Linked DNA regions of Homo sapiens. The protein of the gene in region 6 interacts with the protein of the main gene of each other region in a pairwise test. Each region holds a gene or a part of one and is shown on either strand. Other genes may lie near its edges.

The links.
Region 1: the proteins of STATH (region 6) and MTIF3 interact in binary tests that used the Homo sapiens proteins (3 or more experiments, as listed by UniProt).
Region 2: the proteins of STATH (region 6) and TMX2 interact in binary tests that used the Homo sapiens proteins (3 or more experiments, as listed by UniProt).
Region 3: the proteins of STATH (region 6) and SLC10A6 interact in binary tests that used the Homo sapiens proteins (3 or more experiments, as listed by UniProt).
Region 4: the proteins of STATH (region 6) and TMEM80 interact in binary tests that used the Homo sapiens proteins (3 or more experiments, as listed by UniProt).
Region 5: the proteins of STATH (region 6) and SPNS3 interact in binary tests that used the Homo sapiens proteins (3 or more experiments, as listed by UniProt).
Region 7: the proteins of STATH (region 6) and ERGIC3 interact in binary tests that used the Homo sapiens proteins (3 or more experiments, as listed by UniProt).

What each region holds. Positions count from the first base shown.
Region 1 is NC_000013.11:27,440,565-27,444,064, forward strand, and holds part of MTIF3 (translation initiation factor IF-3, mitochondrial), read right to left. Parts: intron 679-3,500; exon of another isoform or gene 453-678; intron 1-452. UniProt on the Homo sapiens protein: IF-3 binds to the 28S ribosomal subunit and shifts the equilibrium between 55S ribosomes and their 39S and 28S subunits in favor of the free subunits, thus enhancing the availability of 28S subunits on which protein synthesis initiation begins.
Region 2 is NC_000011.10:57,719,093-57,722,592, reverse strand, and holds part of TMX2 (thioredoxin-related transmembrane protein 2 isoform 1 precursor), read right to left. Parts: intron 1-3,500.
Region 3 is NC_000004.12:86,846,585-86,850,546, reverse strand, and holds the start of SLC10A6 (sodium-dependent organic anion transporter), read left to right. Parts: upstream 1-1,162; 5' UTR 1,163-1,431; coding exon 1,432-1,808; intron 1,809-3,962. UniProt on the Homo sapiens protein: Transports sulfoconjugated steroid hormones from the extracellular compartment into the cytosol in a sodium-dependent manner without hydrolysis.
Region 4 is NC_000011.10:698,816-701,722, forward strand, and holds part of TMEM80 (transmembrane protein 80), read left to right. Parts: intron 1-53; coding exon 54-73; intron 74-1,326; coding exon 1,327-1,420; intron 1,421-1,799; coding exon 1,800-1,892; intron 1,893-2,907.
Region 5 is NC_000017.11:4,432,626-4,436,739, reverse strand, and holds the start of SPNS3 (protein spinster homolog 3), read right to left. Parts: upstream 2,801-4,114; 5' UTR 2,773-2,800; coding exon 2,574-2,772; intron 1-2,573. UniProt on the Homo sapiens protein: Sphingolipid transporter.
Region 6 is NC_000004.12:69,994,639-69,998,765, reverse strand, and holds the start of STATH (statherin isoform a precursor), read right to left. Parts: upstream 2,801-4,127; 5' UTR 2,741-2,800; intron 344-2,740; 5' UTR 329-343; coding exon 278-328; intron 1-277. UniProt on the Homo sapiens protein: Salivary protein that stabilizes saliva supersaturated with calcium salts by inhibiting the precipitation of calcium phosphate salts. It also modulates hydroxyapatite crystal formation on the tooth surface.
Region 7 is NC_000020.11:35,545,078-35,548,577, reverse strand, and holds part of ERGIC3 (endoplasmic reticulum-Golgi intermediate compartment protein 3), read right to left. Parts: intron 1,167-3,500; coding exon 1,073-1,166; intron 70-1,072; coding exon 1-69. UniProt on the Homo sapiens protein: Possible role in transport between endoplasmic reticulum and Golgi. Positively regulates trafficking of the secretory proteins SERPINA1/alpha1-antitrypsin and HP/haptoglobin.

The DNA.
Region 1 (3,500 bases), on a different chromosome or scaffold from region 6:
GGGAAATGCTGTTCTCTAGACTTTCAGATCCACACACAGGAAGTCTACACTGATAAAGCGGACTAGCAGGTGACTCTGGCCAGACTAACTCATGGTGATACTGTCCCCAAGACAAGTGGCTATTAGAATAAACCAGATTTACATAGCATTTTGGTTTCACTTTTTTTTTTTTTCTGTACACATGATCTCATTTGACTACTTAGTTGACCCCTGAACAACTTGGGAGTTAGGGAAACAGACCCCCTGTGCAGTTGAAAATCTGTGTATAACTTTGACTCCTCAAAAACTTACTAATAGCTTACTGTTGACTGAAAGCCTTATGAATAACATAAGCAGTTGATTAACACATATTTTGTATGCCATATGTATTATATACTGTATTCTTACAATACAGCAAGCTAGAGAAAAGAAATGTCATTAAGAAAATCATAAAGAAGAGAAAATATATTTACTATTAAGTGGAAGTGGATCACCATAAAGGTCTTCATCCTCATTGTCTTCACATCAAGTAGGCTGAGGAGGAGGAGCAAGAGGAGGGGTTGGTCTTCTCTCAGGGGTGGCAAAGGTGGAGGAAAATCCACATATATGTGGACCCCATGCAGTTCAAACCTGTGTTGTTCTAGGATCAACTGTATTTCTCATGCATCTTGTAGTGCCAACTCCAAAAGCGAGTGTCATCTTAGGGCTTTATTTATGAGGATGCAGTACATAAAATGCTTGGTGATTCATAAACACCAATTGATAAACTTCTAATATAATTAACTGTTAACAATTTTTCAATACATCTGATGGTATATAGCAGATAGGAACACACTATGGGAAAGGGACCTCTCCAGGAAGGAAGCCAGCCCACTGCAAGAATAACTGAGCCTGTCAGAAAACACTGTGACATAAATCAAAGTGCTAACCTCATAAACTATAAAGATCATTCTCAAGGTAAGGCAGGTGTTAATTACTACCAAATGTTAACAGAGGCATGTATGGTGACAGTGGTTTTACTTCATGGTTATGAGACTGAATTTGAAGCACTTACAAATGGCACATTGATTTTTTAATTGCTTTTCTGTCCTTCCATTCATGTATTTGGTAAATCTTAGAAGTACAGGCTGAAAGAGTGCTGAGAGGACCCATTCATCTCATCTAGGGCATGCTAGGAATCATTAGAGAATCACAAACTTGGAGAGGTGTGACTTGTCAAAGATGAAAGAGGAAAACAGAAGGTGTCTTCAGGGTGCTTCTCAAAGAATGGTCCCAGAATCTCCTGGGGTGTTTAAAACTGGAAGTTCCCTCTGGTCCCTGGCTTTGAGCCCACTGGGCTGTACAACCCACTTATCTCTCACCTGTCATGTTCAAGAGTGATATGCAAAAAAATATGGTAAATTCAACAGAAAGTGATGGACATGCATATTCTCAACACCCTCCTTACCTAGTTTGGTAACACCCAACACTCTAATTTATAGCTCTGGTGCCAGTCTCTTCTCTTGAGTTCCACACCTGTAGGGTTAACCGCCTACCCAACCTCTCCACTTAGATATGTAATAGTCATTGAGGATTAACGTGTTCAAAGTTCAATGCTTTGCCTTCCATGCAAAACTTGCTCCTCCCTCAGTCTTCCCTGTCTCATGTAATTGCAACACATTCTTCTGGTTGCTCAGGCCAAAAATACCAACGTTATCCTTGACTCTTTATTTTCTCTCAGCAACCCATCCGCAAAACCTACCGTTCAACCAGTATAACCACTTCTCACCTTCTCTACTGCTATCATCCCACTCCCAAACCGCCGCGCCGCTCAACTGCATCACAGTAAAACCGCATCACAGTAACAGCTTCCCGACTGCTCTTCCTGCCTCTGCCCTCACAGCCTGGAGTTTATTACTGCTAGGGCACACAGAGCAATCCTTAAAAATGCGTAAGTCAGATCACGTTCCTCCTCTGCCCACACCCTCCCCTGGCTAGTATCTCACTCCAAGTAAAAGCTAAGCTCTCTACCATGCCCACTGGCCTGTGCCGACCGTACTTCTTCTGGCTCACTCTGTTCCAGCCTCCTTGCTGTTCCTTGTGAACAGTGAACACACCCCTCCTCTGGGTCCTGGCACCCAGAAGTTCTCTCTCCCTGCAACACTCTTCCCTCAGATAGCCTCATGGTTCATTTACCTCGTCTCTGCTCAAACGCTACCTACTCAGCGAGCCCTTCCCTGACCCTTCCATAAAAGAGCACACCCCAACACTCTCAAACCCATTACCTTGCCTTTTAAAAACTTTACTGCATTCATCACTGCTGGACACATTCTATATTTATTTGCATATATGTTCATAATCTTTCCTCACTGGAATGAAAGCTTCATGAGAACATGGACTTTGTCCATTTTGTTCACTGCTGTGTTCCCCGGCACTACAGCTCAGAGCCTGGCTCAGCATGCACATGTCGAATGAATGCACGGGCCGAAGGAAACAGCCAAGGAGCTATGGCAGGGCTGCTGGCATTTAACCTCTACACCTTCGGATGTGTCACGAATGCCTACAAACTACACCCTTCACATTTCTAGCTGGCATTTCAGATGCCCGTCAGTAATGGTGAGTATCTGTGGCCAGATGCTCCATCCACAGTGTATGACATGCATTGATTTATGGTTATTACCCAGCTGGTGGCTCCAGCTGTAGATGCTGTAAAGGCTCTAAGGTGGGAGCAAAGTGATTTTAAATCACTGACATACTGTTTAATAAAAAGTCAGATCTTTTGTGAATGGAGGAAGCCCCCAAACCAAAAAAGAAGAAAAATCTGAAAAGATCACAGAAGATTTTTTTTTCACTTATCAGAAAACTAGCAGCAGCATCCAGTCCCAAATGTCACTAGGTATTCTGCTAGGGGACTCTTAAGTTCCTGCTCACAAGCCTGCTCTATAAACTTTATGTCTAAAATCAGTGTTGTTTCTTTCCAAAGTCTGTATTAGCGACAATGATGTAGAAGTTATCACATGTAAAATCATGTTACTAAATAGATAGATATAAATTCTAATATTCTTGATATATACAGTAGACAAAACAGTTCACTGCAATTAAGCTTTAATACTAACTCAGTACTGGCTATCTTTTTCCCTTAGTAGTTATGAATAAGAGCTAAAGTGCCTTGTTTAATAAATTATCAACATATTAAAATATAAAAAATTTCAAAATTTGATTTTTTTCAAACAAGCAAACAAAATAACTAGATATAGGAAAAGATGAAAAAAATTTATAAAAATGTTGAAGACAAAAGCAATTCATTCCCCTATTTTTCCTAATTGCCAGTATTTCTCAAGTTTTTTTATAAGTGTTATTTTTATACTTGAAAATAAATTTTATTTACAAAATAAAGACTATTTCAGAAAAATGACGTAGGTTTTTTAAAAAAGCTTTAAAAACACTTTCCAAGAAGGAAACAAAGGAAAGGGAAAGAATAGAAAAACACTGGAAGTAGGGCCGGGTGCAGTGGCTCACGCCTGTAACCCCAGCACTTTGGG
Region 2 (3,500 bases), on a different chromosome or scaffold from region 6:
CAGTAAAGTATCACTTCTATATGACACATATAAAGATACAGATATAACAGGCATGCAGAATAAAAGCCATGTTCAAAAGATACTTTATTTGCCTGTTTTCAAAAACAATTTTTCTCCCTTACTTTAGATAATTAGTAAAAGTTACAGGACACAACAAAAGGTGAAGGAGAGAGCCATCTTTCAAGGCCTTTTCAAAAGAGAAAGAGGGCCGGGTGCAGTGACTCACACCTGATTTTATTGTCTCAACTCTTTTATCTTTTTCTTCTCCTTTTAAAAAAATTCCTTCACTGAAGCTGGGTGCGGTGGCTCACACCTGTAATCCTAGCACTTTGGGAGGCTGTGGTGGGAGGATCGCTTGAGCTCAGGAGTTCGAGACCAGCCTGGGCAACACAGTGAGACCTCCTCTCCACAAATGATTTTTAAAAATTAGCTGGGCATGTATGTTGGCACGTGCCTGTACTCCCATCTGCTTGACAGGCTCAGGTGGGAGGATGGCTTAAGTGCAGCAGGTTGAGGCTGTAGTGAACTGCGACCATGCCACTGCACTGTAGCGTGGGTAAGAGAACAAGACCCTGTCTCCCCCCTCAATTTTTAAAATTAATTTAAAAAATAAATAAATAAAATTACTTCAGTGAGAAGGAAGAAATCTCAACTCTTATTGCCTGGTTAGTCCTGGGCAAGTCCAATCCAGGGAGGGCCTAGCTGGTGTCTCAAATTAATAGGTCTATGATTAGCAGCCCCCCACGTATTGGTGGGATACTACAGGAAACACACACATAAACACCATCCTTAACTGTCTATGAAAACAAGAGTCTTTCGCTATCTTAGCCTATTTTTGAAAGTAAATATTTTGGGGGAATGTGAGGGTTATATCATCTGGTATTCTGAACCTAGAAAATTACCTCTGAGACTTTCCATGAAGAAGGCTTATTGGCTTAAGTCGCTAAGTAAATTGGCTTTATTTAAAAAACATTTTAGACCAGGCACAGTGGCTTATACCTGTAATCCCAGCACTTTGGGAGGCCGAGGCTGGTGGATCACCTGAGATTGGGAGCTTGAGAACAGCCTGACCAACATGGAAAAACCCCATGTCTACTAAAAATACAAAATTAGCTGGGCATGGTGGCACATGCCTGTAATCCCAGCTACTCAGGAGGCTGAGGTTGTGGTGAGCCGAGACTGAGCCATTGCACTCCAGCCTAGGCAACAAGAGCAAAACTCCATCTCAAAAAAAAAAAAAAAAAAAACTTTATTTATTTATTTAAATAAAACATTGATTGATTGATTGATTGGAGATGGAGTCTCACTCTGTCACCTAGGCTGGGGTGCGGTGGCACTATCTCAGCTCACTGCAACCTCTGCCTCCCAGTTCAAGCAATTCTCCTGCCTCAACCTCCCAGGTAGCTGGGATTGCAGGCACACACCACCACACCCGGCTAATATTTTGTATGTTAGTAGAGACGGGGTTTCACTGTATTGCCCAGGCTGGTCTCGAACTCCTGAGTTCAGGCAATCCACACGCCTTGGCCTCCCAAAGTGCTAGGATTACAGCCACCGTACCTGGCCTGAGGAAAAAAAAAAAAAACAGCTATCTTTCTAGTACCCATAAAAAGATACAGAAAGAACACAGCCTTAGAAACTCCCTTGGCAAGATTTTTAAAAGACAGAAATCAGATTCAAAACACAAGTTAAAATTCTTTGTACACTCAAACTGCTTGTTTTGGATCCCCTGAAGGGCCTGCAAAAAGGCACTATGATCTGTGGTCTAGTGGCTGGCAATAAACTGGTTAGCTGCTGCAGCGTGGGTTCGATTCCTTGTAAGGTAACAGTCCATTGCAGATGCAAGTCTTTTAACTCAGAGGAAAAAAAAGAAACACTTATAAAAATTAGTTTGAGGCCAGGCACGATGGCTCACGCCTGTAATCCCAGCACTGTGGGAGGCCAAAGCGGGCGGATGGCTTGAGGCCAGAAGTTCGAGATCAGCCTAACTAACGTGGTGAAACTGTCTCCACTAAAATACAAAAATTAGCCGTGTGTGATGGCACACGCCTGTGATCCCAGCTACTCAGGAGGTTGAGGTATGAGAATCGCTTAATCTGGAGGCAGAGGTTGCAGTGAGTAGAGATCATGCTAAAGCACTCCAGCCTGGGCGATAGAGCAAGACTCTGTTTCAAAAAAAAGAAAAAGTTTTGTTTTGAATTTCCATTTGTTGACTCCTGACTTTTGGGGGTACTCATTCGTTATTGGTACCATATACACAATAAACACATGTATAGACATATACATACATATATAGACACATGTATCGATACAAAAGCCAAAGACTAGAGAGTTTAATTCAAAAGAGAGAAGAGTTTTAAACCTGACATGAACCCATTAGTGACTTTTGGGGCTCTATAAGGAAAACGAGAGGCCCCAAAAGAGAGGGTCAGTGGCACCTTTTTTTTTTTTTTTTTTTGTATTTTTAGTAGAGATGGGGTTTCACCACGTTGGCCAGGCTGATTTTAAACTTCTGACCTCAGGTAATCCACCTGCTTCAGCTTCCCAAAGTGCTGGGATTATAGGCGTGAGCCACCGCGCCCAACCAGTGGCACCTTTTTTTTGTCTTCCTCAAGGGATCTCAGGGTTGTCAGAAGTCCCATCTAGACCCCTTTAAGGGTTATCAAAGGTGGCAAAAGGAAGAAGTAGAAATACATGGAACAACCAGTTTTGGAGAAGCCAATTTGGAGAGATTTTAAGCTTCCCCAAAAGGCTAATGAAATTTTACATTTTCAAGGCAGGGTGCAGTAGTTCATGCCTATAGTCCCAGCACTTTGGGAGGCTGAGGGAAAATGTACCACTTGAGCCCAGGAGTTCAAGATCAGCCTGTGCAACATGGCGAAACCCCATCTCTACAAAAAATACAAAAATTAGCCGGGCGTGGTGGTGTGCACCTATAATCCCAGCTACTCAGAAGGCTGAGGTGGAATACTTGAGCCCGGGAGGTCAAGGTTGCAGTAAGGTGACATCTCACCATTGCACTCCAGCCTGGGCAACAGAGTGAGACCCTGTCTCAAAAAAAAAAAAAAAAAAAAAAAAGACAAAGAAAAAAGAAATTTTACATTTTTCTCAGCAAAGATCATGCCAACAAGAAAGGAAGTGAACACAAGGACTAAACATAATTTTTTTTTAAAGGGGGTTTCAGTGAACTGAAAAAATTTCCCAGGGCATGAGATCCAAAAGAGAAAAAGCAGAAAGCCTTTAAAAAATAAAAAAATTGGCCAGGCACGGTAGCTCATGCCTGTAATCCCAGCACTTTGGGAGGCCGAGGCAGCTGGATCACGAGTTCAGGAGATCGAGACCATCCTGGCCAACATGGTGAAAACCCGTCTCTACTAAAAATACAAAAAATTAGCCGGGCGTGGTGGCGTGCACCTGTAATCCCAGCTACTCAGGAGGCTGAGGCAGGAGAATCGCTTGAACCCAGGAGATGGAGGTTGCAGTGAGCCAAGATTGCACCA
Region 3 (3,962 bases), about 17 Mb from region 6:
TCTGTCACCCCTGAGAAGTGCTCAGAAAATGTTAGCTGTCTCCCTCCTCCCTTCCTCCTCAGCCTGACCACACCTCTGCATCATTCAAGCTGGGAACACCTTGCCTTCCAGAGACCTTTCCCGTTCCTCAGTGTCCATTCTCTGCAGGGCTCTGCGTAAATACGCCCTGTGCTGACTGACCCCTTATACGCAACCTCCAGGGAGGCTGGATGGCCAGAGCTGCCTTCAGGGTTTGTTTGCCAAAGGCAGTTTATTCTTTCTTCAAATAGTTAGAATTTACTTCACATTTGAATCTAACTTGTATTTTTATACAGTCAGCATGTCCTGAGCATTCTGTCATGGAGAAGAATTTGCTCATCCATGAATAAACAATGCATAGCTAGTATCCCTCTTGAGACAGGTAGAGGCGTTTATGAAGTGTGCCTTGTTACTAGCCTGTGCCCCACAAATAAACTTTCTGCTGTGAGAAGGGGTGTGGCACCTGCTTTTTCAGAGGTTTAGTTTCACAGAACCATACAGTCCTTGGGTTTTGCCAGCAGTGCCTGCTTAGAATGCACAGAGGGGCCCTGGGCACTGTGGTCAGAGGCTGTCCTCAGACCCCATCTCCATTTCAGACCAAGCTCTTTACCACATCCCCTTGCAGGATTCCCAGATGTCCCTAGGAGGCCAGGGGTATGTATCTCAAAGTAGACTCTTATCTCCAAAAGCAAGTGAGAGCTCCCTTGAATTATTTTGGGTGAAGGAATTAGTTTTCACATGTTTCATGAGACATAATTAGGTGCCTAATACCATATTATTCTCACAGGTGTTTAATTATTGACTTTAGACACAAATTCTAATAGAACTAGAAGAAAAACTGAGACAAATTCTGAAGCTCCTTGAAATTATTCTTAGTCCCTCCTGACATTTCCTCCACCGGCGTTTTTTTTCTTTTTGCTCTATTTCCAGCAGACACGCTTTGCTAATGCTACAAGGTGTGGCTTTGGCTTTGTTGTTTTTTCCGGAGTTAGCTTTTCTGTCTGTGCATCCTGGCTCTTTGAAATCCCAACTGAATTTGGAGAAATTATTTCTTGGCATCCACCCTACTTTCCAGGGACACAATGTGATGCTGACGACATAGCCCGGTCACTCCACTTGACAACAAGTTTGTTTGTCTCATCTCACATACATATTCAGTGGTGAGTAAGAACAGAAGTGGAAAGCCTTACTTACCACAGTTTATTATATGTTTCATGCCTGTGATAATTACTTTTATAATGCCACTTGTGAAAAAATTGATCAGATTAGGATGAATCACCTTGCTGGCCAACAGTTATTGGAATGATTCTCCATGTGTGACTTCGTTGCACTATTACAAAATGTGGCAGGATAGACCTGCCCAGCCATTGTTGCCGATGTTCATTTGTAATGCTGCCTTAAGGAGATGAGGAGATGAGAGCCAATTGTTCCAGCAGCTCAGCCTGCCCTGCCAACAGTTCAGAGGAGGAGCTGCCAGTGGGACTGGAGGTGCATGGAAACCTGGAGCTCGTTTTCACAGTGGTGTCCACTGTGATGATGGGGCTGCTCATGTTCTCTTTGGGATGTTCCGTGGAGATCCGGAAGCTGTGGTCGCACATCAGGAGACCCTGGGGCATTGCTGTGGGACTGCTCTGCCAGTTTGGGCTCATGCCTTTTACAGCTTATCTCCTGGCCATTAGCTTTTCTCTGAAGCCAGTCCAAGCTATTGCTGTTCTCATCATGGGCTGCTGCCCGGGGGGCACCATCTCTAACATTTTCACCTTCTGGGTTGATGGAGATATGGATCTCAGGTAAGTAACCCCAGGGAAGCTCAGCAGTCTGTCTCTTATCCTGCCTAGGGGGAATAACTGAAACTCTTGTGTTAAACACTCTTCTAATCTTTTGGTAGAGATTCTAGTGGGAAATGTTACAAATATCACAGAGACTTGTTCAGCCATGGGTGGGCTTTCCTTTCAGTGCTCAAAAGTTACTTTGCTGATGATCATTTTCTTTATTGGCTACTGTTCTGAGCAGTGGGATGCGTTCTGAGCAGTGGAGGCAGGTCTGCACCTCACCCAGTGGCCCTTCCTAAGCTTGAGCTCATTCTTACCTACACTGGCCTCTTTAGCAACTCCTAGGACTTAAACCAAGAATCCCAAGAAGCTAACGATTGTGGTTTGGTAGCAGCCGTCGTGGTTGTGTCAGTGGCATAGTCAGAATGAGACTCCCGTAGCTCCAGTCAGTGATGCCTGAGCACCTACTTTAGGAAAGAAGCACTTTAGAGGACTGGATAAAGGAGCTTTAGGGGTGTCTGGTGGCCATATCCAGCTTTAAGTGCTGAGATGGCTTGTCGATTTGACTTCAGGAGCAATGCGAAGGCTCTCAGGACTAAAATTGTTCTTTCTTGTTGCTTTGCAGATCGTTAACATCATCACTAGATTCGCATTCCTTCCCTTTAAGCCAGTGACCTTATTCCCAATTATGGTGTAGATAAATACCTCTGGGAGACATTAAGCCTTGTCCCTTATTTACACTTTAATGAGGATGAATTAGTCACATGCTTTTCTGGATTACATGTTTTGATGGGGGAAAAAAAGAGCATTTGAGGAAAGAGTAGAGGGATAGCACTGGAAAAAGAGCTAAAAACAATGGTCTCTCGAGACTCTTTGCTTACTTGTGAACATGCCGTTTCACTTCCTGCCCTGGGGAAGAACTGCTTATAAATTTAAGTATTTGTTTCATGTGTATGTCATTTAGTTGAGATTCACTTTACCATGAATGAATGAATCAGAGGTAATGACTGAGCTGGGAGTTGACATCAGTGAGAGTCAGCTGCAGGTATGTGTTTCCAGTTTTCCGCTTGTGCTGAATGTTTAGCGTATGGAACATATTTCACCTATAAATTTTAATGGGCTCATACCATGCAGAATAGGAACTAACTTTCCCAAGGCAGTGTTTTTGTTTACCCACTTATGAGAGATTTGAAAAAAAAATAACTTGATGAATTTTGTGTTTTACCTTAATGGTAAAAGCCACTCATATACAAAGCCACTAATATACACTGCTTTTGTGTTTTACCTTAATGGTAAAAGCCATTAATATACATTGCTAATTCAAATTCAGTAAAGTTGATTATTTAACTGGGAAATGATAGATATTCTTTGCATGAAGTTCATAAATCAGAGATAAATTCCAGGACCTAAAAGTTTTTGGAAAGAAAAAGGAAACTAATATTTATTAAGTGCCCCATAGGCATGGGATAGATGCTTTCATGCTTATTTTCTTCTTGGGGCTCATAATAACCTTGTAAATGGCCTTTTATTGTTCTGAATTTTACAGCTGAGAAAATTGTGATTCAGATTGGTTAAGTAGCTTGCCAAATGCTACAAACCAGTATGGCAGAACTCAGATTTGAATTCTCATCTGTTTTACATCAGTCTGCAGTTTAGGCACATTTCCCCCATGGCATTTAGCAACACAACTAGATCTTCTGTTTTGAATAGCAGCATAAATCTTCAGTGTTCTCAAACACTTGTGTTCTGGGAAAGAGAACATTTATTACCTTAATCTCTTATTAGTCAATGTTGTCATAAAAACACCAATGAACAGGAAACCTATGAAAGATAAAGCTACTTTTACTTTCTTTTGCCAACTCTTATCTTTAATTCACCTTTAACTTTGTTCAAATTATTTAACCTATCTAAGCCTTATCTCATCATTGGCAAAATGGGGTTAAATTTACCTATTTCTCACAAGACTGTATATATATGTATATATATGTACACACACTCAAACACACACACACATATATAGATAATAGTTTGGGGTGGAGTTTCACTCTTGTCGCCCAGGCTGGAGTGCAATGGTGCGATCTCGGCTCGCTGCAACCTCCACCTCCTGGGTTCAAGTGATTCTCCTGCCTCAGCCTCCTGAGTAGCTGGGAATACAGGTACCCGTACCCACCA
Region 4 (2,907 bases), on a different chromosome or scaffold from region 6:
GGAAAGCATCCTGGTGGCTGTCAGGCCTTGCTCACGGCCCCTTTCTCTTTCAGGGAGAGGATCCTCCACAGTGGTATCCTGCTGCGTGCCCCTCCAGGACAGCACCCAGAGGCCCGAATTGCTGCTGCACAGAGAGCACTCGGCCTCACCCCACGTTTTCCCTAAGTTCTGTCTAGTAATTCCACTTTGGAGAGGGGGGTGTTCCTTGACAGATTTAGAGAGTTGATGTAACTTCCTCGGATCAGTTCTGCTGGCTCCATCCCCTACCTGCTCAGCCCTGCACAAAGTGGCTAAGCACGCCACACTGCCGGCTCCCAAGGCGATGGCCACCTGCCTCTGTCTCGGCCGCTAGTGGCAGGAAGATGGAAATCCCTCACTTTGTCCCTAGATTCATTTTATTTTATTTTTGTTTGTTTATGTTTTTTTAAGGACAGAGCCTTCCTCTCACCCAGGCTGGAGTGTGGCAATCACAGCTCACTGCAGCCTCAGCCTCCTGAAGCTCTGGCATCAGGCGGGAGCCACTGTGCCTGGCCCCATAGACTCATGTTAGCATAAACAAATAGGAAATGTACACAGCTCAGGAAATGGCTACTAGATACTTAAGTCCCCCAAACAGAAATATATTTCCTCTGAAGAAACTGAAAAAAGTGGCCGGGCGCAGTGGCTCATGCCTGTAATCCCAACACTCTGGGAGGCTGAGGTGGACAGATCACTTGACACCAGGAGTTTCAGACCAGCCTGGCCAACATGGTGAAACCCTGTCCCTACTAAAAATACAAAAAATTAGCTGGGCATGGTTTTGCACGCCTGTAATCCCAGCTACTCAGGAGGCTGAGGCAGAAGAATCACTTGAACCCAGGAGGCGGAGGTTGCAGTGAGCCAAGATTGTGCCACTGCACAGTGTCCAGTCTGGGCAACAGAGCAAGACTCTATCTCAAAAAAAAAAAGAAAATGACAAAGTTATTTTTTCTCTCTTAACTCATAACTGGGGCCAAAGGCAGGGTGACATCACTGGGGATGCCAGTGTGTGGAGGCTGTCCCCTGACCAGTCCTGTCCACAGTCAGGAGGGCAGGGGCTGCAGTGCACAGACCGCATTGTTGTGGCATGGAGGGGGGTCCCACAAAGGCCTTGTCAGCTCATGGGACCACATTGGCAGCCAGCATAGTGACAGAAGCCTCAGATAGGCAGTGAGCCATTGCCAAGACTCCATGGTCCCTTGGTGTCTGTGGCCACCAAACAGATGACAGAACCAGCCCCTCTTGTTCAGCCACCTGGGAGGCTGCTCCCAAGCCTGTTGAGCTTGAGGATCCTTAACCACTCACCAGCTCTCTTCAGTTCCCCTTCAAATGCTGTTTTATCTCAGCGGAACGTACTACGCCCTGTATTTCCTCGCCACGCTCCTGATGATCACGTATAAAAGTAAGTCAGGGACGGGCACAGTGGCTCACGCCTGTAATCCCAACATTTTGGGAGGCTGAGGTGGGCGGATCACTTGAGGTCAGGAGTTTGAGACCAGCCAGGCCAACATGGGGAAACCCCATCTCTACTAAAAACACAAAAAGTAGCCGGGCGTGGTGGTGGGCGCCTGTAGTCCCAGCTACTCGGGAGACTGAGGTGGGAGGATTGCTTGAACCCGGGAGGTGGAGGTTCCAGTGAGCCAAGATTGCGCCACTGAACTCCATCCTGGGTGACAGAGCAAGACCCTGTCTCAAAAAAAAAAAAAAGGAAAAGGCAAGCTGAGGTGGCTGCTGCTGCTGTGCCAGGTTACTTATGTTCCGTCCGCGCCTCTGCTCTTCAGGTCAGGTGTTCAGCTATCCTCACCGCTACCTGGTCCTCGATCTTGCTCTGCTGTTTCTGATGGGGATTCTAGAAGCAGTTCGGTTATACCTGGGTGAGTGGACTGTTAACACCGTGAAGAACCTGTCCTAAGAGTTGCTATCTGTTTCCACAGCCTTTCAAGAGTAATTATTTTATAGTGTGGTTCTCAGAGACATTTTTTATCCAAACTGCTTACCCAGTTGCTTTGCAGGCTCACCTTACAGTGTCATTAAGTATTAATCAAGAAGTTTTGTCCCAGAGACAAATAACACTGGGGGCATCGTTGGGAGAGACTCTGTGTTTGGAAGCATGTCTTGTAGAAGCCACTGGGTAATGGCACTGAGATCAGAAAAGCCCAGCCCACCACCACATCTGGAGCTCCGGAATATTCACCAGCACCCCTTTCCTTCCCCTTGCCCTTAGCTGTCTGAGGAGAGAGCCCTGGAGAGTTCTGCCAGGTCCCAAAAGGCAGCAGAGTCTGGAGGGGTGGGAGCCCCCAGCCTCCCCACTCCAGCTCTAGGGATCCCCAAGTCTGCAACCCCTTCCAGTGACCTACTTTTTTTGAGACGAGGTCTCACTCTGTTGCCCAGGCTGGAGTGCAGTGGTGCAGTCACAGCTCACTGCAGCCTTGACCTCCTGGGCTTGAGCGATCCTCCTGCCTCAGCCCTCCCCTCCTCCCAAGTAGCTGGGATTACAGGCACCTGCCACCACGCCCAGCTAATTTTGTTTTGTTTTGTTTTGTTTTTTTTTGGTAGAGACGAGACAAGGTTTCTTTTTTTTTTTTTTTTTTTTTTGAGACAGAGTCTCGCTCTGTCGCCCAGGCTGGAGTGCAGTGGCGTGAACTTGGCTCACTGCAAGCTCCGCCTCCCGGGTTCACGCCAGTCTCCTGTCTCAGCCTCCCGAGTAACTGGGACTACAGGTGCCCGCCACCACGCCCGGCTCATTTTTGTATTTTTAGTAGAGATGGGGTTTCACCATGTTAGCCAGGATGGTTTCCATCTCCTGACCTCCTGATCCGCCCACCTCGGCCTCCCAAAGTGCTGGGATTACAGGCGTGAGCCACCGCGCCCGGCCGGAGACAGGGTTTC
Region 5 (4,114 bases), on a different chromosome or scaffold from region 6:
TCCCCATTGCCCAAGGCAGAAAGTCCAAGCTCCCAGTCTGGCACCCAAGAAGCTCTGTTCTCACCCCATACACCCCTTTGGGGTTTTTTGTTTCATGTGTTTTGTTTTGCTTTGTTTTGGCTTTTTGTCTTTAGGGGTTTAGATAAGATCTTGCTCTGTCACTCAGGCTAGAGGGCTCACCGCAGCCTCAAGCAATCCTCCCGCTTCAGCCTCAAGCAATCCTCCTGCTTCAGCCTCAAGCAATCCTCCTGCTTCAGCCTCCCGAGAGGCTGAAGACATCACTGTCCCTGGCTAATTTTTTAAATTTTTTGTAGAGACAAGGTTTTTCTATGTTACCCAGGCTGGTCTCGAACTCCTGACCTCATGTGAGGAGAAGCTCCTGACCTCTGAGCTCCTCAAAGACGATGACCAGGTCTGGGGATGGCTCTGCAGCCCCTAGAGTTTCATGATTCCATAGCCACTCTCTGGCATGCTGAGCTGGTAACTGACAGATCGATGCCCAGGTCTCAGAGATGCCTGGCAGCTGCAGGCACCCTCCTGAGCTCCCAGCCCGGCCTGTGCCTCCCCCTTGTCTGGCCGCACCTCTCCGCCTCGCAGGACTGCCATCAACCAGCCTCTATCTCTGCCCCATGAGATGGTCATTCCTGAGTTCAGGAACTCCAAGTCCGATTTCCTCCCTGGGTCCACAGCAGCCAGCAGGGGGTCCTGCCCACAGTTAGTGCTCAGCCGGTCTTGAATGAATGAATGACAAGAAGAGAAGAGCAAGTGGAGCCTCAATCAGCTGTTGTTATTGTTGTTGTCTTTGTTTGAGACGGAGTCTCGCTCTGTCGCCCAGGCTGGAGTGCAGTGGCACGATCTCAGCTCACCGCAACCTCCGCCTCCCGGGTTCAAGCGACTGTCCTGCCTCAGCCTCCCGAGTAGCTGGGATTACAGGCGTGAGCCACCACGCCTGGCCCCTGATCAGTCTTGAATGAATGAATGAGTGAGTGAGTTAGTGAATGAGTGACAGAAGACAGAGCAGGTTGAGCCCTGAAGCCTGCAAGAAGGAAGGCAGGACGTGTGAGGTTTGCGAGCAGCCTGTTGTCCTAGAAACACAGCCAGCAGGAGCTATTCTTGTCTGGCCCAGGCTACCCTGTCCTCCACCTAGAACCTGGGGGCCTCTGCCTGGAAGTCCTGCCTGCTGTCCTCACCCACCCACCCCTCATTATGTCTCTGGCCCCACCCCCACTGTGCCCTCCCTTAATTTTTAAAAAATATTTATTTATTTATTTATTTTTTATTTTTTATTTTTTTTTTTTTGAGACAGAGCCTTGCTCTGTCGCCCAGACTGGAGTGCAATGGTGGGATCTTGGCTCAATGGTGGGATCTCGGCTCACTGCAACATCCACCTCCCAGGTTCAAGCAATTCTCTGCCTCAGCCTCCCCAGTAGCTGAGATTACAGGTGCCCGCTACCATGCTCGGCTAATTTTTGTAGTTTTAGTAGAGACGGGGTTTCACCATGTTGCCCAGGCTGGTCACAAAGTCCTCACTTCAAGTGATCCGCCCACCTTGGCCTCCCACAGTGCTGGGATTACAGGCCTGAGCCACCGCACCCAGCCCTAAAATATTTTTAATTTTTTAAATAGAGACAGAGTTTCGGCTGGGCGCAGGGGCTCATGCCTATAATCCCAACACTTTGGGAGGCCGAGGCAGGCGGATCACCTGAGGTCTGGAGTTCGAGACAGCCTGGCATACACGGCAAAACCCCGTCTCTACTAAAAATACAAAAACTAGCCTGGCATGGTGGTATGCGCCTGTAGTCCCAGCTACTCGGGAGGCTGAGATAGGAATCGCTTGAACCTGGGAGGCAGAAGTTGCAGTGAGCCGAGATCGCGCCACTGCACTCCAGCCTGGGCAACAGATTGAGACTCTGTCTCAAGAAAAAAAAAAAAGGCCGGGCACGGTGGCTCATGCCTGTAATCCCAGCACTTTGGGAGGCCGAGGCGGGTGGATCACCTGAGGTCAGGAGTTCGAGACCAGCCTGACTAGCATGGTAAAACCCCGTCCCTACTCCTCCTCTACTCAAAATACAAAAATTAGCCGGATGTGGTGGTGCACGCCTGTAATCCCAGCTACTCGGGAGGCTGAGGCAGGAGAATCACTTGAACCTGGGAGACAGAGGTTGCAGTGAGCTGAGATTGCGCCACTACACTCCAGCCTGGGCGACAGAGCGAGACTCTGTCTCAAAAAAAAAAATAAATAAATAGAGACAGAGTCTCACTATGTTGTCCAGGTTGGTCTCAAACTCCTGGGCTCAAGCAATCTTCCTGCCTCAGCCTCCCAAAGTGCTGGAATTACAAGCGGGAGCCACCATGCCCAGCCTGTGTCCCTTCTTAGTTGAGGCTGGATTGGGAACATCAGTTGGTCCTCCCCGATTCGAGCACAGCTGAAAACCACCTCTAGAGGTGAGAACACCAGAGATGGGCCCAGGAGCAGAAAGATGGGTGATGGCTGGAAGGCCACCATGGATCTGCAGCCCCTGGCTGGTGGGCACAGCAGCAGGTACTGCCCAGGGTAGCCATCCCCTCCTCACCTGCAATGATGAACCAGTTCATGTAATTCAGGAGGTTGATGTAGCAGAGGACGGCGGCAGCCACGTAGGCCCTCCACGGGGGCAGGCTCCAGGAGGTGGGCGTGATGGGAGGGGGACACTGCCTGCCTGGCCCTGGGGACTGGCCCTGCAGACCTCCTGGCCCAGGCTCAGGGCACTCCGCTGACATCCCCCCAGCCATGCCAGCCTGCAGCTCTTGGCCTGAGACTGGCGCCAGGATGAAGCAACATTAGCTCAGCACGAAGTCACTTCCTGTGGGGTCCCAGGCTCCAAACCTCAAAGCACCTGCCCTAACTGTTGGGCGTCTTATCGCAGGTTCCTCCTGACCCCACGGCAGCTTCACCAGTGCGATTTCCCCATCGTCAGCCTCTGAGACCTGCTACGGAGGACAAGGGCTCCTGGCACCCCCACCCTGGGGACTGGACAACTCTGTGGTCCCCTTGATCTAGCCTGCAGCTTCAGTGGCTGCAGTGAGGAAGGGAAGCTTCCAGGGCAGGAAATGAGATGAGCCTCCCAGAGTGCTGCTTGCTGTGAGATGGTCTAGCTGCCCGTACGGGACTGTGAACCAATGCCTTGAAGCCGGGGCAAATGAGGAAGGCTGGGCATTGGCCAGGACAGCAGCATTGCACTCGACTGCCAGGCAGGATGAGCACCTACCCAGGATCTAAGGTCCTTCCCGGAAAAACAAAGGTAGCAGAGGGGGCTGCCTACAAGAAGACAGCCTGTGTGCAAAACTCATCAGTGGGGGCTAAATCTGGGGGGAAGACTTCAGTGAGGGGGGAGGGTGTCAGCACGGTCACGAAGCATCTCTTGATAGATTGCTTATTAGTAACAAAAGGAAAAAGAGTAACTATACAGTAGAGGAATCAGACATCTTGACCAAGGGGTTAAAATAAATCACCTGTGAGAGGCAGGAGGGTGTCGTGTGCCTCCAGATGTGAAGGTCTTCGCAGGTCACAGCATCATCTATGTGGCATTCCAGCCAGGAAGGCACAACCGGAATCTCATCATGAGAAGACATCAGCCAGACGCGGTGGCTCGCACCTGTAATCCTAACACTGGGAGGCCAAGACAGGAGGATCATCCAAGCCCAGAAGTTTGTGACCAGCCTGGGCAACATGGTGAAACCCCATTGCTACAAAAATACCAAAAAAATAAAAAATTTTAAAAAAAAATAGCCGGGTGTAGTGGTGTGCGTCCACAGTCCCAGCTACTTGGGAGGCTGAGGTAGGAAGGATCGCCTTAGCCTGGGAAGTCGAGGCTGCAGTGAGCCATGTTCGTGCCACTGCACTCCAGGCTGGGTGACAAAGCAAGACCCCAACTCAAAAAAAAAAATTTTTTTTTTAATTTTTAAAATGAAAAAACATCAGACAAGCCCAAATTGAGAAACACTATTTCTTTAAAGGGACTGTATATTGAAAAATGTCAGAGTCATGAAAGACTAAGAAAGACTGAGGGAGCTAGGCGTGGTGGCTCACGCTTGTTATCCCAGCACTTTGGGAGGCCGAGGCAGGTGGATCACC
Region 6 (4,127 bases):
AAGCTCTCAGTTCCACATATTTAAGAAGTTCAGTAAAACTTTCTTTTATTTCACACTAAGCTAAATATACTTTAGTGTCTGTAGATGAATAATGACTATTTATTCTAAATCCTTATATAGCTTATGTAGGTTAGTACAAAAAAAAGTTCATATGGAAACATTTAAACATATAAAGCTGTATTCAAGTAAACACCAATATATGCCAGAACACAAGGAATAGAGAGACTCTTGGGATAGGTACTGAGAACATATTCTTCAAATGTCCTGATATACTTACAATCATGGAAACCATGAGAGCCAAGATGAAGGCAAAGACAAGGAACTTCATAGTTGGCTGGGTTCTCTGAAAACATATGTGGAAATTCAGTATCACATTTTTTCTTGCATTCGCCCATCAAAAGTTTATTGATTATACTACGCTCCAAAGCACTGGGAGACACACTCCAGATAGAAAGACAATTAAAACCCATTGCCTGACATCATGAAACTTGGAGACTTGTTGGAGACACTGATAAGTAAAAGTGAGTGTATTGATATGGAAATGCTAAGGCATTAGAGTAACACACAAATCAACACCTTACACAGACCAAGAGAATAGGGGTATGAAGGTAAAGAAGAAAGTAAAGCTTGAGTTGGATTATGCAGGATGAGTAAAGAGGTGTTGGGTGACTGCAAGAAAATGAAAAAGAGGGAGGATACCATATTGAAAGTGCAAACAGTTCAAAATGTAGGGAAGATAAAACTGGAGCAGTTTATCAGAAGATAAAACTGGAACAGTTCAAAATGTAGGGAAGATAGAACTGGATATTATGGGGCGCCTTAAATAATGACATTAGGGATGATATTTAAGGTACAGTGTAAAGAGATGTTTGGATGTTAGAATGACCAGCAATGGGCAATCGCTTTATAATGTTACTGAAAATGAGCCAGATTTCTGTCTTGAGAGTTGCAAAAATGGGGTCACCTTCAGATTAGAACATTAATGATACTGGGTAGAGAACAATCAAACTGATAAGAAGTCACAGAGAAAATATTCGTACCTCCTCTGAGAAGTTGAATTGGTGAAGATGACTTAATATTTTAAATAATCTCATTCAACAAAATTAACCTTATCTGGGACTGTGATATGTTATCATAAACAGTATAAGCCAGTTAACCCAGTTCCTTTGTTATTAAACAAAAAACGTTAGATTATTTATTTGTAAATTATAAACATCTAAATAAAGACATTTTCAGTGAAACACATAATTGCCACAAGAGTTACAAATAAATGACATTTTTACCTGTTTATTGAAAACTATAGAGTAATTCATATAAAGGTAATGGTCTTCATTATTTTAATCTCTTTTACCAATAACTTGTGATAAAACATTACAAGAATATTTTTTACCTAATTATAAAAAAAATTACTGTTATTAATAACCCCAAATCTCCAAAACATAAAGCAGAACTCATGATTTATGGCATTTGCTTTGTTACTTATTCACTGATTTGCCTCAGTTATTCAAACTGAAATTTCTGGCCGGGTGTGGTGGCTCATGCCTGTAATCACAGCACTTTGGAAGGCCAAGGTGGGCAGATCACCTGTGGTCAGGAGTTCAAGACCAGCCTGACCAACATGGAGAAACCCCGTCTCTACTAAAAATAATAATAATAAAAATTTAGCTGGGCATGGTGGTGAGTGCCTATAATCCCAGCTACTTAGGAAGCTGAGGCAGGAGAATCACTTGAGCCCGGGAGGTGGAGGTTGCGGTGAGCCGAGATTGCACCATTGCACTCCAGCCTGGGCAACAAGAGCGAAACTCTGTCTCAAATTAAAAAAAAAAAAAAAAAAAAAAGGAAATTTCTGGTATTAGAGTAAGTGTAAAAATAATATGTACTTTGGGGTTTTTCTATCACCTGATAGATAAACCTACCCATCAGTCATTTTATGATGCAAAAAGCATAAAAACTTTAGTGTATTTTATACCTGTAAATTTTATTGAAAGTATGGAATCAAAAAATGCTCATAGAAGAGTAGTTTTGTTTTACTAACCTTGATAAACTGAAAGATGGATATATAGACATAGATATATAAATATATATGTCATGGTTTTAAAAAAATATTTCCCCAATGAAAAATAATAAAAATATGAAATAGTAAAATCTTTGTTTTCTGCCATATCACAACTGAATGAAAACAACTTAAGTAATATAAAACAGTAAGGCAGTAAAGCATGACTGTTATACAACATTTTTTATTATGCAGAATGACATAACTGTTTAAAATGATGGAAAGGTCAATGAAAAGGTAGTGAGAAATGTTTACTTATGGGAAAAAAGTAAATTTTTAAAAGTTAAACTTGTGAAACAATATATACATTTGCAAAAAAGAGAACGTATGCTATTTTCTTAAAATATGAACTTCGAATAAAGGTAAAAGTAGTAAGTAGCAGAGTAGATGCCAGTACGTAGACAAGGAAATAAAAAGCTTTTCAGAAGTTCCATCAGGAGAGAAGTTGGAATATGTCTCCATATTCCACATTATTTACTTTGCATGATGATTGCTGATTTCAATGTATAGTTATTCAGATTCTCAACTTACCTTCAGATCCTAAGAAGGTCATCATTTCTCTCAATTGTTTCTTTATGAGAAATTATCATTACATAAATACACATTTTTATAATTAGTTTTCAAAAGATTTTAGGAAGCAACACTCTAGATTAAGACAACATATTCGATTATACATGAACATATTACCTTTTACTCAAGATGAGACTACAGAAGTAGTGAAGTTGAAGTGAAGCTTCAAGAGATGATGTGCTACCCTAGAGGGCCAATGTATTTAAACACTCTGAAGTCCCCCATTTGTTTTTGTTAAATAATGGCAATTATGAGATCACATTATGGAAACTAAAAGTAATGCCCAAAATCTGTCTCTACAAATGATAAAAATAACCGTAACAAAGTGATTTTGCAATAGATGATTGTGAAGACAAAGTAACCAGGAAACAACTGTACCCACTGCATGTTAATCCCACTGTTAGTCTAGCGCTGAGTGAGTCAGATGACAGAAAAGCATGCTGGAGGAAACCAGGCATAGAAATAATTGCAGTGATAAAGATGTTTCCACAAGTATGTGTCCAAGGTGGAACAACTCTATGACACAAATAATACTTACCATGTTATCAAGATTTTACATGTTCTCTGATAACTCGTGGTAACTGGCATAATAAAATTACAGTCTTCATATACTTCAAGAGTTTTTCTTCAAATCATTATTTATCTCATACTTTTACCATCTTCTATTGACTTTAGAATATTTTAAGTTACAAAGTGAACGTAAACATTTGCCAAATTCAGTAATCTTTTGGGTACTATATGATAAAAAATTATTATATTTATGGTGAAATGACTCTAAGTGCTCACTGATACATATCTCACATATGACTGAATATATGTATTTGGAAATTCAATTTAATTTCCTGGAGTTTTTAAGGCTACATATTTTTCCATAGCAGCCATGTGTTGACATGATTACACTAGAGTGAAGGAAAAAATGTTTTCATTACATTCCTAGGAAAATTTGTGTAAAAATTACCCTACTCACTGCTGGTTGGATAACTCAATGTACTAAGAAACGAATATCAAAAACTTATATATAAAGTTGAGGTAAGTTATACAGCCTAGTGCATTGTTCCTCAGAGTGTGCCATATGGGAACATCACAGACAGCATCAGCTGGAGCCTGTGGAAATGTAAATTCTTAGTCCACCTTCGCAAACTTGCTGAGTCAGAATCTTGGGGTTGTCCTAAGGCGTTTGCATTTTAACATTATCTCCAGGTGATTCTTTGGGTACTGTGAAGTTTGAAACAAGGCTGGTCTCAGTGGCTCATGTCTGTAATCCCAGCACTTTGGGAGGCCGAGGCAGGAGGATTGCTTGAGCATAGAAGTTCAAGAATAGCCTAGGCAACATAGTGAGACCCGTATCTCCACAAAAACATAAAAAAAAAAACAACCACATATTTGTCTCTTGAATGCATTAGTTATCCTTAGGCTTTAACCAGTAAAGATAATTTGTGGTTTAATTTTGTATCAGATTTTTTAAGGAAGTATTTATTAGGTAAATTTTTATGCTGTATTGGAA
Region 7 (3,500 bases), on a different chromosome or scaffold from region 6:
TCTGGGTTCTTGAAGGCCCAGCCTCTACGGCGATATGCCTCCCGCACATCTTCACAGGTGTTACAGCACCTGTAGGGCAGGGAGTGACGGTGAGAGTGTTAAAGAGGCATAAGTCCAGTGCTGGCATCTGGGGAAATAGAGCCCGAGCAGCTCTGCCTGCTAATGAAGGCTCTGCTAGCCTCATCCCTGACCACCAAACATTCTCCAAATGTGTTTCCTCAGTGGCAGAAGGACTGTTTTCTTTTTTTAATTTTTAAAATTTTTTTAGAGATAGGGTCTTGCTATGTTGCCCAGGCTGGTCTCAAACTCCTGAGCTCAAGTGATTCACCTACCTCGGCCTCCCAAAGTGCTACGGATTACAGGTGTAAGCCATTGTGCCCAGACTAGGACTGTGAAAAATACATATTCCCATTCTGTTTGAGGCGATGACAAGTTTTAGGACAGAGAGTGGTGACTGCATGACACTGTGAAGATACCTAATGCCACTGAGTTGCACACTTAAAAATAGTTAAAATGGTAAATTTTATGTCACATATTTTCCCACAATAAAAAAAAATTTAAGTACACATTCCCAGGCCCCACTCCAGACCTGCTGAATCAGTCTTGCAGAAGTCAGGGTCTGGGAAACAGCAGCAGTTATCAGATACTGAGGGTCTAATAATCTGGGCTGGGCCTTCCACCTCAGTGCTTTACACACAGTATACAGCTAATCCATATGTGACTCTTACGAGAAGATGTTATTATCATCCCTCTTCACATAGAGAGGTTACATGGCTTGGCCCAAGGAAACGGGTAGAACCCAGGTAACTGGACTCCAGAGACCACCTCTGAACCATTTCTCTAGGTGGAAGAGCAGAGACCACTTCAGCTTCATCTCTAGGTCTGCAGCTCCCAGATAGGGCCTGGTTACAAAGCCTCAGTCGCTTGCACCAGGATCAATGACAGAGGCACATACCCCGCCCACTCTAGATTCTTGGTCTGACCTCCCCACCTGCCACAGTCTGACTGAGGCTGAGGCTGACTGACAGATGGCGCCTGATGGGAACCCTGCTCCCGCTCCCCGCCAGCTCACTTGATATCTTCTGCCTCAGCACCATAGCAGCTCTCACAGCGATCAGGGTCCAGGGAGTCAGGGTCAAACACCGTCACCTCGACTTTCCCAAGCTCTAAGGGGAGGGGAGAAGCAGAGGCATCAGCTGGGGCCAGACACAGTGAAATCGGTGGCTCCAGTCTGCACAAGCCCTTTGCTTAGGGATAATAAAAGTTATAATAACTAATATTCATATAGTACATGCTACGGGTCAGGCATTAAGCACTTCTACACACATATCAATTCTTTTAATAAAAGAAACAGTAAGAAAACAGTCAACAGTAAATACTGAACATTAGCTGTGTACAGATCACTGTACTTCACAACCATCATCTCATTTCATCCCCACAATGACTCTTTGAGGGTGGCGGTAATTATCCCTGTTTTACTGAGAAGATGTTGAGGCTCACTGATGAGAAGTGACTTTGCCCAATGCAACCGAGGAAACAGATTTCAGCTAATTCCAACGTGTATGCCACTAACCTCTTGCCATGGTGCTTCTCCTCACACCTCTCCCTCTGCACCGGCTCCTTGCCTCACTCTAATCACCCCATCATAACTGGTGATTTCAATAATGAATACTGACCTCCCGACTCATGATAATCTTTTGATTTTGCCATCTCACCTCAGCTACCCATTTTCATACTCATACCTAGATCCTGTCACTGCCAATAACTGCAAATCTTCCAAAATTCAACTTCAAGTGTCTGAGTCTTCAACTACTTACCCTTATTTTCCAAGTTCACTATTTAGTACCCGAAATCCACCAATTCTTTGACACTGCTGACACTATCACGTCCTCACTTCCCTCCTGAAATCCCATGGTCCACTGTAATTATTCTCTTGCACATAACCACAACTCCCTGTTCCTCTCGTCTTTCATTTACAAATCCAGCAAAACCCACACCCTGGTTCCATTCAACTCTCTGTACCTACTTCTTTCCTGAAGCTCCTTTAGGACTGCCTGGCAATTCCACTTCATTTCTCTAATCAGTTCACTCTCCCACTCTCTAAGGTGACTTAGACCTTCTCCTCTCTCCTTAGGCTCCCAAAACCCCCTCCTATTTCTTCACTTAGCTAATGTCCTTGCTTTCAATTTCCACTAAGAAAAGAGAAGCAACAGAACTTCACTTGCTCTCACCACCAAACCCACCATCTCACCACTTTCTCCTTCAGATCCCACTCCATTTCTCAGCTCTCCCTTACAGTGAAACTCCCAAGTCACCTATAGGTAATGTCTCCACTTCCTTTTTTGCTCTTTGATCCGATTTTCATCCTCAACAGTATCAAAATTGTTCCTTTCAAAGTCTCCAGGAATCTCTTTGTTGCTAATTTCAATGGTCAATTCTCACTCCTCATTTTACTGGACTATCAGTAGCTTCTGATACAACTGCTCACTCTCTCTTCTTGAAACTCTCTCCACTTGGCTTTTGGGACACCTCTTGGTTCTTCTACGTCAATGGCTAATCCGTCCCAATCTTCCTTCCTGTCCTGACTTTTAAATATTGGAGATACCCAGGGTACAGGCCGTAGACCTATCCTCTACCTACATTGACTCCCCAGGTTTTCTTAGTCCAGTTGTTTAAACTACCCTGTACCTGCTGATAACTCCTCTAAATTCTAGACTGGTACATCTAATTGCCTCTTAATATCACCAGAGTATAAAATAGGAACCCCAAATTTAACATACCCCAAACCTGAGATTCCTCTTTCCTGCAAATCCTGACCTTACTCTGTGGAAGCTAGTTTCCAAGATGTCCTCAATGATCCCCACTTCCTAGTATTCACACCCTTATGTAGTCCTCTCCCACAATGAGTAAGGCTGACCTGTGTAAGCACTAGTATATTGCAGAAATGATGGTGTACAACTTCTGAGGCTGGGTCATAAAAAAGGTTACACGTTTTTTTGTTGTTGTTGTTGAGACAGAGTTTCACTCTTGTTGCCTAAGCTGGAGTGCAGTGGCGTGATCTCGGCTCACTGCAACCTCTGCCTCTCTGGTTCAAGTGATTCTCCTGCCTCAGCCTCCTGAGTAGCTAGGATTACAGGTGCCCACCACCACACCCGGCTAATTTTTTTTTTTTTGTATTTTTTAGTAGAGATGGGGTTTTACCATGTTGGCCAGGCTGGTCTTGAACTCCTGACTTCAGGTGATCCAACTGCCTCAGCCTCCAAAAGTGCTGGGACTACAGGCGTGAGCCACCATGCCTGGCCAAAGGTTATGGTTTCTACTTTGTTCTCTCAGCTCACTTGCAAGATCCAAGTGGGGGAAGCCAGTTGCCGTGATACAAGGACACACAAGCAACCCTACTGAGAGGCCCATGTGGTGAGGCACTGAGGCATCCTGCCAACAGCCCTATGAGTGAGCCCTTTAAAAGCAGATCCCCTGCTGGGCGTGGTGGCCCATGCCTG